Regions from separate parts of the Homo sapiens genome. Here region 1 is linked to region 2. Evidence: fine-mapped expression QTL. Tissue or cell type: tibial nerve. Region 2 holds a variant in brackets; the other region holds the start of a gene. All regions are shown on one strand. Distances are from middle to middle.

Region 1 (8,177 bases), 40 kb after region 2:
TGTAGGAAATCTGGCCTGGTCCAGGAGCCCCTCTAGGCTGAATGGTATCGGCATTAAGCATGCAATTCATGTATGCTGTCACTAAGTGGTGGTAGGGATCACAGCCATGTGGTCCAAACATATAGTCACAGACCTTCCTTGTTCTTCTTTTTCCCCCTAAAACAATAGACAAAAGATTTCAGAGATCTTTTACCCTCCAAAGGGTTAAAAACCAGGGTTAAGAATGATAATTACATTTTTTTTTCAGAGATAGATAATATCATATACTTCAAAAATTAAAAATTGGCCAGGTGCGGTGGCTCATGCCTGTAATCCCAGAACTTTGGGAGGCCGAGGCAGGCAGATCACGAGGTCAGGAGATCGAGACCATCCTGGCTAACACAGTGAAACCCCGTCTCTACTAAAAAATACAAAAAATTAGCCGGGCATGGTGGCGGGCGTCTGTAGTCCCAGCTACTCTGGAGGCTGAGGCAGGAGAATGGCGTGAACCCAGGAGGCGGAGCTTGCAGTGAGCCAAGACAGAGCTACTGCACTCCAGCCTGGGTGACAGAGCGAGACTCTGTCTCAAAAAAAAAAAAAAAAAAGAAAAAGTAAAGGAAAAGGAAAATCACTGAAAAGTTTTCCTGTCACCCCCGCCCCAGACACTACTTTCTTTCCCAAGGGTGACAACATTTTTCAGTTTACTGTGATCCTTCCAGAAAGGCTTTATTATTGTATATGAGCATCTATAGGCTCACCCTTTTTTCCTTTTTGCTTTTTTTACTCACATGGTGGCATACTACACACATCTTCTGCCCTTTGTTCTTTCACTTAACAATTATCTTGGAGAACTTCCCATGTTAATTTATCATGCGTTTCTTCCTTCTTTTATGGCTGCATTCTATTTCAGTGTTGGGAAGTGCCCTCATGCATTGAACAGTGCCCTTTTCATGGGTATCAAGATTGTCTGCAGTCACTTACTACAGAAACATAGCACCATGAATGATTCTACTCATGCCTGTTTTGCACGTGTGATATACAAGTCAAAAAATTCCTAGAAGTGAATTCTTAGGTCAAAGAGCTTGTGCATTTGTAATTTTGATAGACATCATCTGATTTTCCTACACAGAAGTTGTACTGATTTACACTCCCATGGGCAGTGTGGGTATCTGCCAGTTTCCTCTTGCTTTCTGGAATATATTGTATTACTGAACTCCTGGGTCTCTGATCAGTGAACACAATGACATCTCAGCATAGTTTTAATTTGCATTTCTTTTTCTTTTTTTGAGATGGAGTCTCACTCTGTTGCCCAGGCTCAAGTGCAGTGGTGCGATCTCAGCTCACTGCAACCTTTGCCTCCCAGGTTCAAGCGATTCTCCTGCCTCAGCCTCCCAAGTAGCTGGGATTACCGGTGCTCACCACCATGCCCAACTAATTTTTGTATTTCTAGTAGAGACGGGGTTTCACCGTGTTGGCCAGGCTTGTCTCAAACTCCTGACCTCAAGTGATCCACCTGCCTCGGCCTCCCAAAGTGTTGGGATTACAGGTGTGAGCCACCATGCCTGGCTTAATTTGCATTTCTTATTATGAATAAGGGAGGACAGCTTTTCAGATGTTTAAAAGTCATTTGTATTTCCTTCCCTGTGAATTGTCTGCTTCTTACCCTTTACCTGTTTCTTTGTCTTTTCTGTTAAGAGACAGTCTCATACTGCTGCCCAGGCTTAGTGCATTGGGATGATCATAGTTCACTGCAGCCTGGAACTCCTGGGCTTAAGTGATCCTCCTGTCTCAGCCTCCTGAGTAGCTGGGATTACAGGTGTGAGCCAAGGTGGGGGCCTGGTGATGATCCGTGATGCCTTCTTTTGATTTTTTTTTTCTTATCAATTTCTAGATGCTATCTATGTGTTAGGGAAATTAGCTGCTTGTGATATGAATTGCAAATAATTTTTTCCCCTTTGTTGTAGACTTTGCTTATGGTAGTGATTGCCATGCCAGAGTTTCTTTGAAGTCAAACTTAGCTGTTTTTTTGTTACCACTTTTTGATTTTGTTGCATACTTAGAAAGGCCTTTCCCATTCCAAGATACTTTTTTTTTTTAAATTTAAAATTTTAAGTTCCCAGATACAAGTACAGAACGTGTAGGTTTGTTACATGGGTATATGTGTGCCATGGTGGTCTGCTGCACCTATCAACCTGTCATCTAGGTTTTAAGCCTCACATGCACTAACTGTTTGTCCTAATGATTCTTCAAAAATTCTCTGAATACTGGCAGTTGGCTCAAGCTCACCAGATTTAGGAGTCCTGAGTGAGGCTGGGGGCAGGCCTGTACCTTTATTTTTAAATTTATTTAATTTATTTCATTTTTTAAAATGATAGGGTCTTGTTCTGTCACCAAGGCTGGAGTGCAGTGGCACGATCACAACTCACTGCAGTCTTGAACTCCTGGGCTCAAGCGAGCCTCCTGCTTCAGCTTCCCAAAGTATTGGGATTATAGGTGGGAGCCACTGTTCTTGGCCCTAGGCCTATACCTTTCATCTTGTGGACTGAGGACTTCAGCCACTATCACTCCCGGGTGCTGCGATGGGGTTTAATTTCCAGTGACTGGCCCAGAGCCTGCTCATGGGAAGATCTCAAGGGAGGCTGTTGAAGGAACAGCATGCAACTTACCGGCCCACACACGTTCACACAGATGGGGGTGGGGGTTTGAGGAGGTGGGGGGTGTTGTGTGGATCAGCTTCAGGCACAGGTGTCTGGTTTCCTATGGGATGTGACCACATAACAGTAAGGCAAGAAGATGACTGCATTTATCTTCTCAGAATCACTTCTTCTTAATTGTTGCTTCCCACTATTGGCATTGGTGAAAGGCTGGGCCACAGGAGGCTGGATGAACTTTGTGTTAGCCAGGTAAGCAGAATGTCTATGCAGGTGGAAAGTAGACAGTGAAGGTGTGCTCATCTGAGTACGGAGGGGCATAGGTCAGGAACCTCGTTGGCCTGCCCTGGCCTTTGCCCCTTTGTTTGGCCCTGTGGCTACAAAGCTCCCCTACCAGGAGCAGCCCCCACTGGCGGCTCTGGCCCTGGAAACCTGTGAATGTTTGGTGGGGGCAGGGTGTGGAGAGGCCAAGTCCACAGTGTATCTAACCCTAGTCCATCTCAGGATTCGGCTTCCCCCAGCCCCTTCTCCTTAGGGTCTCAGCTCGGGCCCTCAGGGCAGCAGGAAGATGCGCTGTCCTCACTCCCAAGTCCCCCTGCCCTTCTGTGCCTTCTGACCTGGGCAGAACTTCCCATGCCACAGCTTCGCCTAATCCAGCCACAGGAGAAAAGAAAACGAGGGCAAATCACCACGATTTGGGGGGAGGGAGGCCCCTGAGCCCCCGCTCTGCCCAGACAAGGCATCCTGTGCATCTCCCATGGCTCATCACATCTGCCTGGGACTCAGTGAAAGGGCCAGAGGGCCAAAGGTGACACCGGAGTCTCCAGCACGACCTTCGAGGGCCTCCAGGGCATTTCTCGCGCTGTAGGGGCGGAAGACTGGCTCCCCTGGGGATGCATGTGAGTGTCTAGGAGTGTACGCTCCCCAGGGCCCCGCGGAGGTCAGGGTTCTCTCCATTTAGGACAGCAAGGAGAGAAAGCCCTGGAGTGAGGCCCTGGGGCTGGGGGCTAAAGCAGCACAGAGTATCAGAAACGGGGTGCTGGGATGGTTACCGGGGACCGCCAGGGAAGACTTGGGAGTCCAGCATGCGCCTAGGGGAGCTGCGGTGGGGAGGCAGCAGGGGGCCTCCTCTGCCGGATGGGGCCTTCGGAGGCCGCGATCCCCGAGAGTTCTTCGCTCGAGGGTTCTTCGCTCTAGGGTCCCCCATTACAGCTGCGCGGGGCCGAGCAAGCAGGGCGCGGCGGCCGGGGCAAGGTGCGGAGCCTCGCGTTCACCGGCTCTACCTGCGGAGCCTCGCGTTCACTGGCTCTACCTGCGGGACCAGACCCCTGCAGCTCCCCAGCCAGCACGGCCGGGGCACGCCCGGGAATCTGTGTGCTCCCCAGGGCCCGGGGCGTTCGGGGCGCCGCGCCTTCCAGCGCCTGGGTCCCAGCCCCGATCCCGGAGACCGGCCCGGGGGGACCCGGGGTCCCGAGTGCACCCTCCTGCCCTGCAGACTGTCCCAGCGCCGGGGCCAGGGGGCGCAGGACCTCGCGCACGCCCGGCACGGACGCATCTTTGTCTTCCCTCTCTTCACGGCGCGCGATCTAGCCGGGAATCGTTTTCCGGCCCCAGTGTGCCCGGCGCGGGTGAGGCGGAAGCGGCCGGGGCGGGGGCGCAGGCCCGGCAGCCGCAGGCCGGTGCGGGATGCGCCCCGCAGCCGCGCCGCGTGCGCCCGGCAGAGGCGGCCCTGCGTGCCGTACGCTGCGTCCGGGGCGCGCCCGCCGCTATTCGGGAAGCTATTCAGCTTCCCGGGCTCATTAGCAGTCGCGGTGTGCGGCTCGGCGCGGGCTCACAAAGAGCTCGGCCTCGCGGACTGAGCCGGCGGCAGCGGGGCGGGGACGGCGGCGTACCCGGGCAGCCCAGCGCCCTGGCCAGGTAAGCTGGGGAACCTGGGCTGCCTGACTTGCCGGCGGCGGCAGCCTGGGGCCGCCCGGGGCGCCGCGAGGACCCGGACGCGTGGGGGGCGGCGCGGAGGTTGCGGCCCGAGCGCTCCAGAGCGCTGCCCTCCCGACTCAGCGTGGCTGCGGGGCGGCCGCCGCTGGGATATGGGGGTACAGCCCGGCGGCCCCACTCCTCTCTGACCGGCCGCTTCCCCCTCCCACGACGGGTGGGCGGGCGGGGCGGGGACCAGGCGGCGGCTCTCGCATCCCGCGCGGGGGGCACCGCGGCAAGGGGCCACCCGGCGCGGACAAGAGGCGCTGTGTGGCGGGGCTGTCCGCTCGACTCCTGCCGGGCTGGCCGGGCTGCTTGGCACCGGCATCAAGTCCCCGTGCCGGGCGGCAACTACTGAGTTTGGGGTCGCCTCTGGGTTCGCTGCCCCCAGAGAACCCAAGCCCAGATCTTCGCCCCCTTCCCTTTCCCTTTATAATAAGGCCCAGAGGGGAAAACTTATCAATTCAAAACCCCACACCCCGTTGCTCCTGGGCTGCAGGTGCCCGGTTGGGGGCACGGCGCGGACCTGCCCCTCGGCCTGGCCCCTTCCCCATGGCAGGCACTGCCTGGCAAGGCTGCTGGCGGGAGATCTGGCTGCAGATGGTGAAGGAGAACATCGAGGCCCCCGGTCCCCAAGCAGGGCGCCATGGGCCGGGCAGCGGGCCTCGGTGTGCCCAGGCGGGGAGGGGGCGAACTTCCTTTCTCCGACGCCTGCCGAGGACCGCCGTGGAGAGCAGAGCCTTAGAGGGGCCTGCTAGTCTTAACTTCGTATTTACTGGCAGAAGGAAGGCTTAATTTTTCAGATCTATTCAGATACGACCTGGCAGGCACCAGACATAAATCTGTGGTTGAGTGCAGTCAGCTCCTAAATGGGCATGTGGAGGGTGAGGCACCCCGAACTCGGCATCTTGCGTCTGGCACTGTTTTTGGGCTAAACTGCCTCTGGCCTCTTCAACCTCCTGTGCCTCTTTCTGTTTTTGTTTTTGTTTTATTTTTCTGTTTTCCTTCCTCTTTGAGAAAGGACAGTGATTTTAGAAATAATGACCCGAGAGCTTTGCAGGTTGAAGTGGGACGAGTTTTCCTAAGGTGCAGGTTGGCAGGTGCCAGGAGCCTGCAGGTGGCTTTTTCTCAGGCCTCTGGGTCAGGGTCCCTCCAATGAGGTGAGGCAGGGGTTTCTCCTGTGTGTCGCCACTACGCAGGGGACAGGATCTGGGTTTCCCAGTCCAGGGCGTCCAGGATGCCCTGCCCTCTGTGCTGATTCCTGGGTGACCGTGGGGGCTGCTTCCCCCTGCAGCCTGGGCTGGAGAGGGTCTCCTGAGCTTAGGATCTGCCAGGCAGGAGGGCCAGGGTGACACGGACCTGGAACGCTGGGGCTCCAGGCAATGTCCAGGGCGTGAGTGGGTAAAGCTGGAGCTTGTGGCTGTGTGCCGGCAGCCTTCCCTCGGTGGGCTCTAGCAGCACTGTCAGGGGGGCCCTTGGAGTGGGCTCCATGGCTGGGCTGGGACTGGGTGATGGCATTAGCGATGGGGCACCGAGTCTTCCCTCTTATTTATTAGGAAGTGTGGTCTGTGCCCCTCCCTACTGCCGGTCTCCTGGGCTCCTGGGATGGGAGGAGCTGCAGGCTGAGTCCCACGGGGTGTGAGTGTGTGTGAGCAGGAGAGTTGGGTGGGCGCTGGAAGGAGGTGAAACTGGTGACCGTCAGCTCCTCATTCTCTTCCACCTTGCATGTTTTCTCTGACACCCTAGACTCAAGTTGTGGCCTGCTAGTTAACTTGTTTACAAAACCTTTTTAAGTAGTTCTAACCTCTTTTTTTCAACAAAATGTTAGTTTTACAGGCATAATTGGTGGGGATGGATTGTGAAATGGAGGTGCATAAATACCTAGTTTGCCAACTGAGCTAAGAAATACTGGATAAAAATAAGAGATAATTGTAAAAGACACTGATCACACCCCTGGAAGCTGAGAGGGGTGATAAGACACCTTGATTTTTCCTAGACAAAACTGAGGAAGTCAGAGGAAAAACAGTTGATGGTGAGGTTGGCATCAGGCTGGGCTTTGTTTGGATTGGGCGGCGGTGGCTGTGGTGAGGGCTGTTGGAGTGGGGAGAGTGGGGGTTGAGCCTGGCTTCAGAGACCCCCTCGAGGCCTCAGCTCCTCTCCGGCGCTCCTGGCTGTCCTCTGCCACGCATACCTGCCCCGGTGACTCAACAGGTGTGGGCCTCAGGTGACACCATGGTCCGAAGTCGTGGAGAAACCTTTACTGTCCAGGGGAGGAGAGGACTGGCGGTCGGTGGGGATCGAGACCCAGCACACATCACTGGGTGGCTCGAATGTCTTCGGCAGAGATCACATGCCCTGCCTTGCAGCCTGGTCCTTAGAGAATGGGGAGAGTGGAGAGAGCTCTGGGCCTGGGTGGCGGGCGGTCCTGGCTGTATCACTCACAGGCTGCGTGCCCTCCCCATGCAGTCTCAGTTCCTCACCCTTGCCAGGTGGCTGTGAGGACTGGGAACGTGGAGGCACAGGTAGGATGTAAGGTAGCCACTGACCACCAGGCAGGCCTCCCCGATGTAGGTCAAGTTTGAGATGGTTGCTCACCAGGAGGCAGCCTGTGTGCCCGGTGGGGGCTGGGGGTGAAGTTTGAGAGGGTTGCTCACCAGGAGGCAGCCTGTGTGCCCAGCGGGGGCTGGGGGTGCTCTTTGTTCCCTTGGGTGGTGGTTGGCCCGAGTGCCCACAGGGAGGCTTCTCTGGCTCCTTCGTTTCCCAGAGTTCCTCCCCAACCCCCTGCCGCCCACCGCCTGGGTTGGGTCCAGCTCGTGTCTCAGAGCAGCCTGCTGGCACAGGCTGAGTCAGCTGTCGTGGGCACCGTCTTTTCTCGCCTCCCCTGAAGCCAATCTTCCCCTCTCTCCCTGTCCAGACACACAAGGGAGCCCTGGGAGGTAGGTGACCTCAAGATCATGCAGCCAGGCTCACTCTGTGGAACCCTACGTACTGGTGGGGTGCCACTGCTGTGTGCATTGTGATTTCTGTGCTGGCTGTGAGGTTTCCCAGGTTGGGGGCTGTGGGGTACTCCTGACTCTGCAAGTTGGCCCAGGCCAGGTGTGTCACCATTGCCCAGGCCTTCAGTGGCTTTCCAGTGCTCCCTCCACATCCACGTTACTCGGCTGGATTTTCTCAAGTTCCCCCACTTGCTCCCAAGAATGGCCCCTCCAGGCTGCCCTGGCTCCAGGCAGACAGGCTTACTGCCCAGATCTGCCCTGGGTTGTCCCCACCCCATCCCCACCTGTCATCTTGGCGCATGTCCATCCTGGAGATCCCAACTGAATGTGGGCTCTTTCCCTCTTATTCCTTGGTCCTCAGATTTGTCAGGCCACTCTTGCCTCAGGGCCTTTGCACCTGCTGTTCCCACCCCCTTGGCATGAGCCACCCCCAGATGCTCACATGGCTGGCCCCTCACTTATTGCCCACTCCCTGAAAGCCCTACATAAATTGGCTTTGTTAACCTTGCTTTGTGTTTCTCTTGTTAACCTTGCTTTGTGTTTCTCCTTAGTACTCACCATTCAGTGTGTTATTTAT
Region 2 (8,177 bases):
AAGGTTTTCAACATTCATTAAAGGCAGAGTAGCTTGTTATAGACTAGCCTCCCCACAGGAACAGTTAGAAAAACTGGACAAAAATGTGTCCCCCCTTCCCCCCACCATCAAAAACAATTGTTGGAAGGTAATTGGGGACCTCAGCCAGGACTTGAGTGACCAGGCCTAGGAGGTGATCCTGACAGTCCTTAGTGCTTTTCCCACATTTGGTGATCGGTCAACAGTAGAGGGCTAAGAGGCTAAGAAACTGAGTATGAAGTGATAGTTAAGAGGCTGGAGAGCCTAGCTGAATGTTTGGCACTCTCACAGGGCTGAAATGACATAATGAGAATTTGGGTCCCAGTAAGGAGATGAGACCTTGGTGGGGATCCTGGAAGGGCCACCCCTAAGAGTCCAAAAGAATAAAAAATAGACCAGCTGTCACAAAAACTAAAACCTGCTTTGAGCCAGCTTAGTCCCAAACTAGATGAAGGCGATCTGCTTGAACGCCAATTGTGTGCCATAAAGTCAAAGTCAGTACTCTCTGGAGGCAGATAAAACTTTACTAGGCATGCCATAAGACAAGACAACGCAAGACAAAAGGAGAAAACAAACAAAAAAAACAATAGAAACATACATAGATATTAGAGTCCTCAGGTAGAATTTTTTTTTTTTTTTTTGAAATGGGAGTTTCACTCTGTCACCCAGCCTGGAGTGCAGTGGTGTGATCTCAGCTCACTGCAACCTCAACCTCCCACGTAGCTGGGATTGGTGATCCACCCGCCTAGGCCTCCCAAAGTGGTGTGATTACAGGTGCAGGCCACCGTGCCCGGCCAGTATTTTGCCACAATTTAAAATAAATTTTCTTTTTTTCAAGTTTGTTCTCAGACTGTATTCACAAGGTCACATGGCGGCTTACACTTCTGTAGGCCTTGTTGACCGTTCTTTTTAGATACTGATGATCTTGATCTTTTTCTTGTCTCCTCCGTAGAAGAATGGGATGCAGGAGGTGCTGCCTAAGCCTGGGCGCTCCTGGGCGTTCTTCATTCCAGGGGGCAGCTGCATGATCTGTGCAGTGCGGTTGTCATGGGAATAACCCTTCCCGGCCTCTCGTGCAGGCTCCAGGCTGCCAGGGTGGCTCATATCAGAAGGATATTTGGAGGGAGGGAGGCAGGGCTCTGAGCACCGCTCCTCCTGCGTCTTCTCCTGCTCTCCCATCCTCTCCTTCTTCTCCCGCCTCTTCTCCACCTGCCTCCGGATCTTCTCCTCCTCCTCCTGCATCTTCTCATACTCATCCCACAGCCTCTCCTCCTTGAATTGCAGCCTCTCCACCTGCTTCCGCATCTGCTCCTCCTGCTCCCCCATCTGCTCCTCCTGCTCCCCCATCTGCTCCTCCTGCTTCCTCATCTGCTCCTCCTGCTCCCCCATCTGCTCCTCCTGCTTCCGCATCTGCTCCTCCTGCTCCCCCATCTGCTCCTCCTGCTTCCGCATCTGCTCCTCCTGCTCCCCCATCTGCTCCTCCTGCTTCCGGATCTGCTCCTCCTGCTCCCCCATCTGCTCCTCCTGCTTCCTCATCTGCTCCCCCATCTGCTCCTCCTGCTTCCACATCTGCTCCTCCTGCTTTCGCATCTGCTCCTCCTGCTCCCCTATCTGCTCCTCCTGCTTCCACATCTGCTCCTCCTGCTTCCGCATCTGCTCCTCCTGCTCCCCTATCTGCTCCTCCTGCTTCCACATCTGCTCCTCCTGCTTCCGCATCTGCTCCTTCTGCTTCAGCATCTGCTTCTCCTGCTTCCGCATCTGCTCCTCCTGCTCCCCCATCTGCTCCTCCTGCTTCCCCATCTGCTCCTCCTGCTTCCGCATCTGCTCCTCCTGCTTCCGCATCTGCTCCTCCTGCTTCCGCATCTGCTCCTCCTGCTTCCGCATCTGCTCCTCCTGCTTCCGCATCTGCTCCTCCTGCTTCCGCATCTGCTCCTCCTGCTCCTGCATCTGCTGCTCCTGCTCCCGCAGCTCCTTCTCCTGGTCCCGCAGCCTCTGCTCCTGTCTCCACATCTTCTCCTCGTGCTTCCGTAGCTTCTCCTGATCCCGTAGCTCCTCCTGATCCCGTAGCTCCTCCTCCTGCCTCCACATCTTCTCCTGCAAAGTGTTGGTTTGAACCTCAAAAGGAAATAGAGTCATAAGCTAGGTATATAAATGTAATCTATAAAATAACGGTTTTCGTCTATGATTCTTTAAAAAGAAATTTTAAGCCGTAACCCTGAGGTTCTGATTTCCCAGGCATGGTCCCAATTTGTAGATTTTTAGCACACTCTAGAGGATTCTGTGGTGGGACCAGAACAAGGACCCAAATTTTCCAGCTCTTGGCTGGAGCCTCCCCACACCCTGCATGATCCCTAGACCATGTCCCAGCCGGATGCGGCTCCCACACCCCCGGGGCTGCCGCCGCTCACCTGTGGCAGCGGGATTTTGTCCGTCTCCAGTTTCCTTTTTAGCTCCTTGATGTGGAGCTGGATCTCAGACTTTTCAGTTTCTACCAGTCGAAGTTTTTCTTGTAGTTCGGCATTTTTCTCCTTCAGCTCCTTATTGGTTATGCTATGGCCGGAGGCAGTAGAGAAAGGAATGAACGAAGAACAGAAAGGACCGCTTTGGTGATCGACCCTCTACCCTCGCCCCACAACCACAGAACCGTGGCACTGGAAGGGACCCCAGGAATTAAAAGTCCCAGGTGGCAGGCCAGAGAGAAGACATGAGTTGCCTGAGGCTACCCCATGAGTCAGTGGCACAGCCGGCACTGGAGCTTCCCTGCACACACATGTAAACCTGTATGACCCCCTACCATGCTCACCTGTACCCCCCACCTCCCAGCACACCACCCACGCTAAGGGCTCTCAGACCTCCCATCCCCCCCTCCCCTATCCTACATGTTCCTGAACAGCTCCAGACTCATGGCTTCCCTCTCCTTTGTTAACTCCTTGATGTACTGCAAACAGAGAAAGGTCAAGTCAGGATACAGCAGGCAGAGGAGCAGCTGGACGACCAGTAACGACAGCTACACTGATACTCCACAGTAACACTTGCTCCTCTCCGTCACACCCGACATGTTCTCAAGGCGTTTCCAAACCCGTGGTGTCATTTGTTTTTCTTTTCTTTTTTTTTTTTTTTTTGAGATGGAGTTTCGCTCTTGTTGCCCAGGCTGGAGTGCAATGGCGCGATCTCACCCCACCGCAACCTCCGCCTCCCGGCTTCAAGCGATTCTTCTGCCTCAGCCTCCTAAGTAGCTGGGATTACAGGCATGTGCCACTGCACCTGGCTCTCACTTGTTTTTCGGAGAACTCAGTAAGGGTGGA[A/G]GGCACAGAGAAAGAGACTGAATTGATAGCTGGCTAACAGGGGCCCAGAGCGATCAGATAATATTGTTATTGCTATTACTGTTATTATTACCACTGTTGGAACCTTTCTTGAGTGCTTCACCAGGCACTATGCTAACAATCCCATTTAATCCTCACAGCCACCACAGGAGACAGTTATCATTATCACCTCTATTGTGTAGATGAAAAACATGGGGTATTAAAGGTTAAGTGCTTGCCTAAGATCACTTAGAGCTGGGATTTCAACACCCAGGTATATCTGATTCTCTAAGCCCATTCTTTTGGTTGGGGGTAGGGGCACAGATAAGGAGGAGGAAATTAATCCTTTGTTGATTTTTGAAAGAATGATACATTGGCATAGTCCAAACCTCAGAAGGTACAGAAGGGAAATATCTTCCCCCAACACTGTTCCTCTCTCCTGAGTTTTTTATGAATCCTTACAAACATGTTTTATGTATATTACCATAATACGTACGTACACACACACACACACACACACACACACACACACACACACGTACATGTGTTCCCTCTCTCTACACAAATGGTAACATACTAAAGATACTCTTCTGTACCTTCATGGTACAAGTACCCTCAACTCCGCCTAGGATTTGACCAAGGCCACAGCCAAGTATGGGTGGGGTGGGCACTTGGCCTCCGAGCTCTGTGTCCAGTGCTCGCTCCCCACAGCGCCCCGCAACTCACCCACAGCAGCTGACTCAGCCCCAACCTGCCTCTAACAACCACGCACAAAAGCAGCAAGAAATGGCCCATGCTGTCTTCTGGGCAGGACACTGCATCCTGCAGAAGGGACCTTTAGGCTCATTCCTCCATCTGCGAAGCTGGGCTCCCAGGGGACCGGGTAGGTGGTTGGACTCACCTTGTCCGCCCTCTCGTGCTCTGCGGACATAGCAGAGAGAGCCCGCTGTAACTCTCCTGCAAAGTGCCAGGAATGATGCAGGCGGGCTGCCAGATCCTTGGAATCTTCTGGAATGAGAGAGGTTGAGCTGCAGCCCAAAGGCCTGTGAAAGTGCCAGGTTGAAGGATGACGGGGTGCCCAGATTCCCACCTTCAAATTTCCTGGCAGCATCCTGGCTGTCATGGAGCGCTGTCTCCAGTTCAGTTTTCTGACACATAAGGATTCGTATGGTATGATCCTGGGCCTTTGGGAGACAAGAAAAGCAAGTGCTGAAAGAGAAGCAAAGAAACCTTCTCCAGAGGACAGGAGGGAACTTCACACCCTCCACTCACCTCTAGCTGCCTCCTTAGGGCTTGCTGATGTTGGTGGCTTGCCTTATTTTCCTATAGAAAAGAAGAGGAAGACAGAGCTCTTACTAGAGGGAGGCAGAGATGGCACAGCAAGAGACATGCCCCCAGAATGGCCCCACTGTCCCAGGACAGGCCCACCCATGGGACCAGGTTATCAGGGACCCTGTGGGGATGGGGTGGAAGCTGGGAGGTGAGCCTTCCTCCCCAAGCTGGGAGTAGGCGAGACGAGACTGGGGCCTCTACATCTGAGTGCCCCCCAAACCCAGCGGTCATGTCGTGAGCAAAGAAAGAAACCATGTTACCTCTTTCAGCTGAGCTCGGTTCTGTTGTTTCTGTGGGGAGAGTCAAAGGAAGGTGACTGAGGGTGGTCCCTCGACTCTATTCCCCAGGCCAGGAAGCGGTAGGCAGGGGTCAGGAATGGATTTTAAGGGCAAAGTTCTCAGACCCAATGGGAACACAAACTGGTCAACTTTCCTTAACGCCCAAAGAAAAAGGATTTGGGTCTTTGTTGGCTTTTGCCCACAGCCACAGAACTGAAAGTCTGAAACTAGATTCTCTGGAAAAGACAGTAACATAAACCTTCCGACATAAGAGTGTGAGAAAAGCCCACCCTTCTGCCAGCTTGTGATGGAGAAAGATGTGTTCATTCAACAAGCATTGAGCAAGCACATAGGGGCCGGGGACGGTTCTTCACTGCTGGGATATAGGACGGAAAAGGCAGACAGGAGCCCTTGGCCCCAAGGTTTCCATTCTAGTGAATCTTTAAATCTCAGACTCTCAGAGCAAACAGAACCTCTGATACTCTAACTCTACCTCCTCAGGAAACGGAAGCCCAAAGAGGAGGGGAGCTTACAGCAGGCCCTGGACTAGGGATTAACACAAAAACAACAGCAACAAATCTGATTTAAGCTTCACACATGTAAGTAAAACATTACCATCCCCATTTTACAGATGTGAAAAGAGAGGCCCAAAGAGCTCGAGCAATTTTCCCTAAACCGTGTCCCTCGCAGTTGGAGAGAGAAGTAGGACTCAAACCCAGAATTCTTAGCCAGTACCCAGCAGTTCTTCCTTCCACAATCTTAACAGTTACCCTCGACCTCCCCCTTGTGCCCCTTGTCCTCAGGAGACCGGCCAGCCAAGACTCACATCCTCAGGCGAGTGGCAGCCCCCCGAAGTGGTTGTCTCAGGGTTAGCGCCATGATTTATTTTCTTCTTTTTGGTGTCGGTTGCTCCGGTACCAACACCAGCACTGTTCCACTGATGATAGTCTGTAAACTGTGGAAAAGAGGAGCAGTGATACTCATGAGAACTACAAGCTCCTACAGTCACTTTACAGTTTATACAAAATACTCTCATAGACGATCTGACTTAATGCCACCAACGACTGTACGAGGTGTTGTCGCAATCACTTAGTGACTGAGAGGGATTGATACCATGGCTAAAAGAAAGGCAATAATGGAACTGAAACTCAGTCTTCTGACTCTGAGCTCTGGGGTGTTGCCACAAATCAGCAGCTGCCAGAGACCAAAACCAGAGGCAGAGGTAGAAAAGTAAAAAGTAGGCAGGAAGGTGTACACTGTGTGGTTTACAGTCGTACATCCTCTTAGAGTCATGTATCCTCAGGGCAGAAGGCAGCCTTTCTGTTAAATGTGGGAATTAAACAGAAAGAGGACAACCCAAGCTGCATTTCAGAGAGAAGTCTTGTATACTCTTTGAAATCTATGTGACTATCATCCCTAAGAACATTAATGTTTTGTGTCTCCCACGAGAATCAAGGAAAACTGATGCTTCAGAAAGATGCCCCATATGTATCCTGTGGCACTCAAAGTACCCCAGGTTGAGATGAGATGAGGAAGATTCAAGTTGTCAAGTCCAGTTTCCCAAGATCTCTTGCACAGAAGATGAGCAAATCTCACTTCAAAGATCACTGACTGATGGGCACTCTGGTCCCAGAACCATGGAGAATTCAAATATGAAGTGGAGAACTTAGAAAAAACTGTTAAAGTCTCTCTGGAGAGTAGAAGCCTGGGAGAAAACCAAACCAAACCCATTATCCCATCAGTGCTGTGCCCAAGTTGCCTCTTTGAGATTGGCATGGGGTCACAGGGTTGGGACCCAGGTACTTGGAGACGTGAGCCCAAAGAGCCCAGGGAAGTCAGGCTTGGGGCAGCGGTAGGTGAGGGCCGAGTATGGAGTGGGGAGCCCCAGGAGTCACCTGCCCAAAGTCACCCTGGGGTGACTGGTGAGGGCAGGTGCTGGGGCATCCGGTTCCTTGGGAACGTGAGCCCGAAGGGCCCAGGGAGATCCATTTTTGGACAATAGGAGGTGAGGGCAGAGTACAAAGCAGGGAGCCCCACGAGTCACCGGCTGAAAGTCACCCTGGGGTGACCGGTGAGGGCAGGGGCAGGACTGCTGAGGGGTTGGGGCTGACACAAGATTTTGGTTGGGGGAGCCCAGAGGCACTGGGGGGGGCCCGGCCCTGCGTGCCTCTGGAGTGACACGGATTCTGGCAGCTGTTCTGCCATCAGAGGGGACCTGGGGCTGGGTTGGGGTTGGGGTGCTGCAATCCGATGCGTTTTACCTTTTTCTTGGTCCCAGCCAATTTTCTTTGTTGGGTTTTTTCGGACATCATGGGGTGGGGAGGGTGGTGGGGTTGGGGTCACATTGGCGTGATCCAGGCGAGGACAGTGATATGCCTCCAGTCACGTACCACACAGCTATGTGACTGAGCCACAGGAGGCGTCACCGGGGCTGCACTAGAATGCGGAAAAGGGGCGTGGCCTTAATGCTCCAAGCCCATTGGTCAATGAGAAAGATGAAAGGGAAAGGAGGCGGGGCCAGGCAGCTGCGGGTCATGAAGGTCCTGTGATGTCACAAGGAAAGCCTCCCATGGAACTGCTGTCCCCGCCCACTCTGGGAGAGGGGCGGGGCTGGCTTTCACTTACTTTTTTTTTTTTTTACATATATAACTTTTTATTATAATTTAAGGTATAGTCGATAATATAATGTTTTTTTTTGTTTTGTTTTGTTTTGTTTTTTTTAATTGATCATTGGGTGTTTCTCGCAGAGGGGGATTTGGCAGGGTCATAGGACAATAGTGGAGGGAAGGTCAGCAGATAAACAAGTGAACAAAGGTCTCTGGTTTTCCTAGGCAGAGGACCCTACGGCCTTCTGCAGTGTTTGTGTCCCGGGGTACTTGAGATTAGAGAGTGGTGATGACTTTTAACGAGCATGCTGCCTTCAAACATCTGTTTAACAAAGCACATCTTGCACCGCCCTTAATCCATTTAACCCTGAGTGGACACAGCACATGTTTCAGAGAGCACAGGGTTGGGGGTAAGGTCACAGATCAACAGGATCCCAAGGCAGAATAATTTTTCTTAGTACAGAACAAAATGAGAAGTCTCCCATGTCTACCTCCCTCTACACAGACACGGCAACCATCCAACCTCTCAATCTTTTCCCCACCTTTCCCCCCTTTCTATTCTACAAAACCGCCATTGTCATCATGGCCCATTCTCAATGAGCTGCTGGGCACACCTCCCAGACGGGGTGGCGGCCAGGCAG

Direction of the effects. Alleles are on the strand shown, and positions count from the first base shown. SD is a standard deviation of normalised expression in the study named.
In carriers of allele G in region 2, the expression in tibial nerve of the gene that starts at base 4,243 in region 1 tends to be higher than with A alone (moderate effect, 0.52 SD a copy in GTEx).

What was found. PIP is the estimated chance that this variant, and not a neighbour inherited with it, causes the effect.
Region 1: APBA2 starts here. The variant in region 2 is fine-mapped to the expression of APBA2 in tibial nerve (GTEx, PIP 0.98).

What each region holds. Positions count from the first base shown.
Region 1 is chr15:28,881,732-28,889,908 of GRCh38, forward strand. It overlaps APBA2 (amyloid beta precursor protein binding family A member 2), which reads left to right and starts at 4,243. Exons shown (of 15, transcript NM_001353788.2): 1 at 4,243-4,547.
Region 2 is chr15:28,841,308-28,849,484 of GRCh38, forward strand. GOLGA6L7 (golgin A6 family like 7) reads right to left here and starts at 7,337. Exons shown (of 9, transcript NM_001365371.2): 1 at 7,192-7,337; 2 at 5,757-5,885; 3 at 4,913-4,942; 4 at 4,593-4,643; 5 at 4,411-4,504; 6 at 4,222-4,328; 7 at 2,898-2,956; 8 at 2,427-2,568; 9 at 525-2,133. The coding sequence starts at 7,242. The coding sequence ends at 928. It also overlaps the pseudogene PDCD6IPP2. RefSeq lists an enhancer at 3,173-3,719 and a silencer at 7,471-7,605. The variant A/G (reference allele first, on the strand shown) is at 3,324.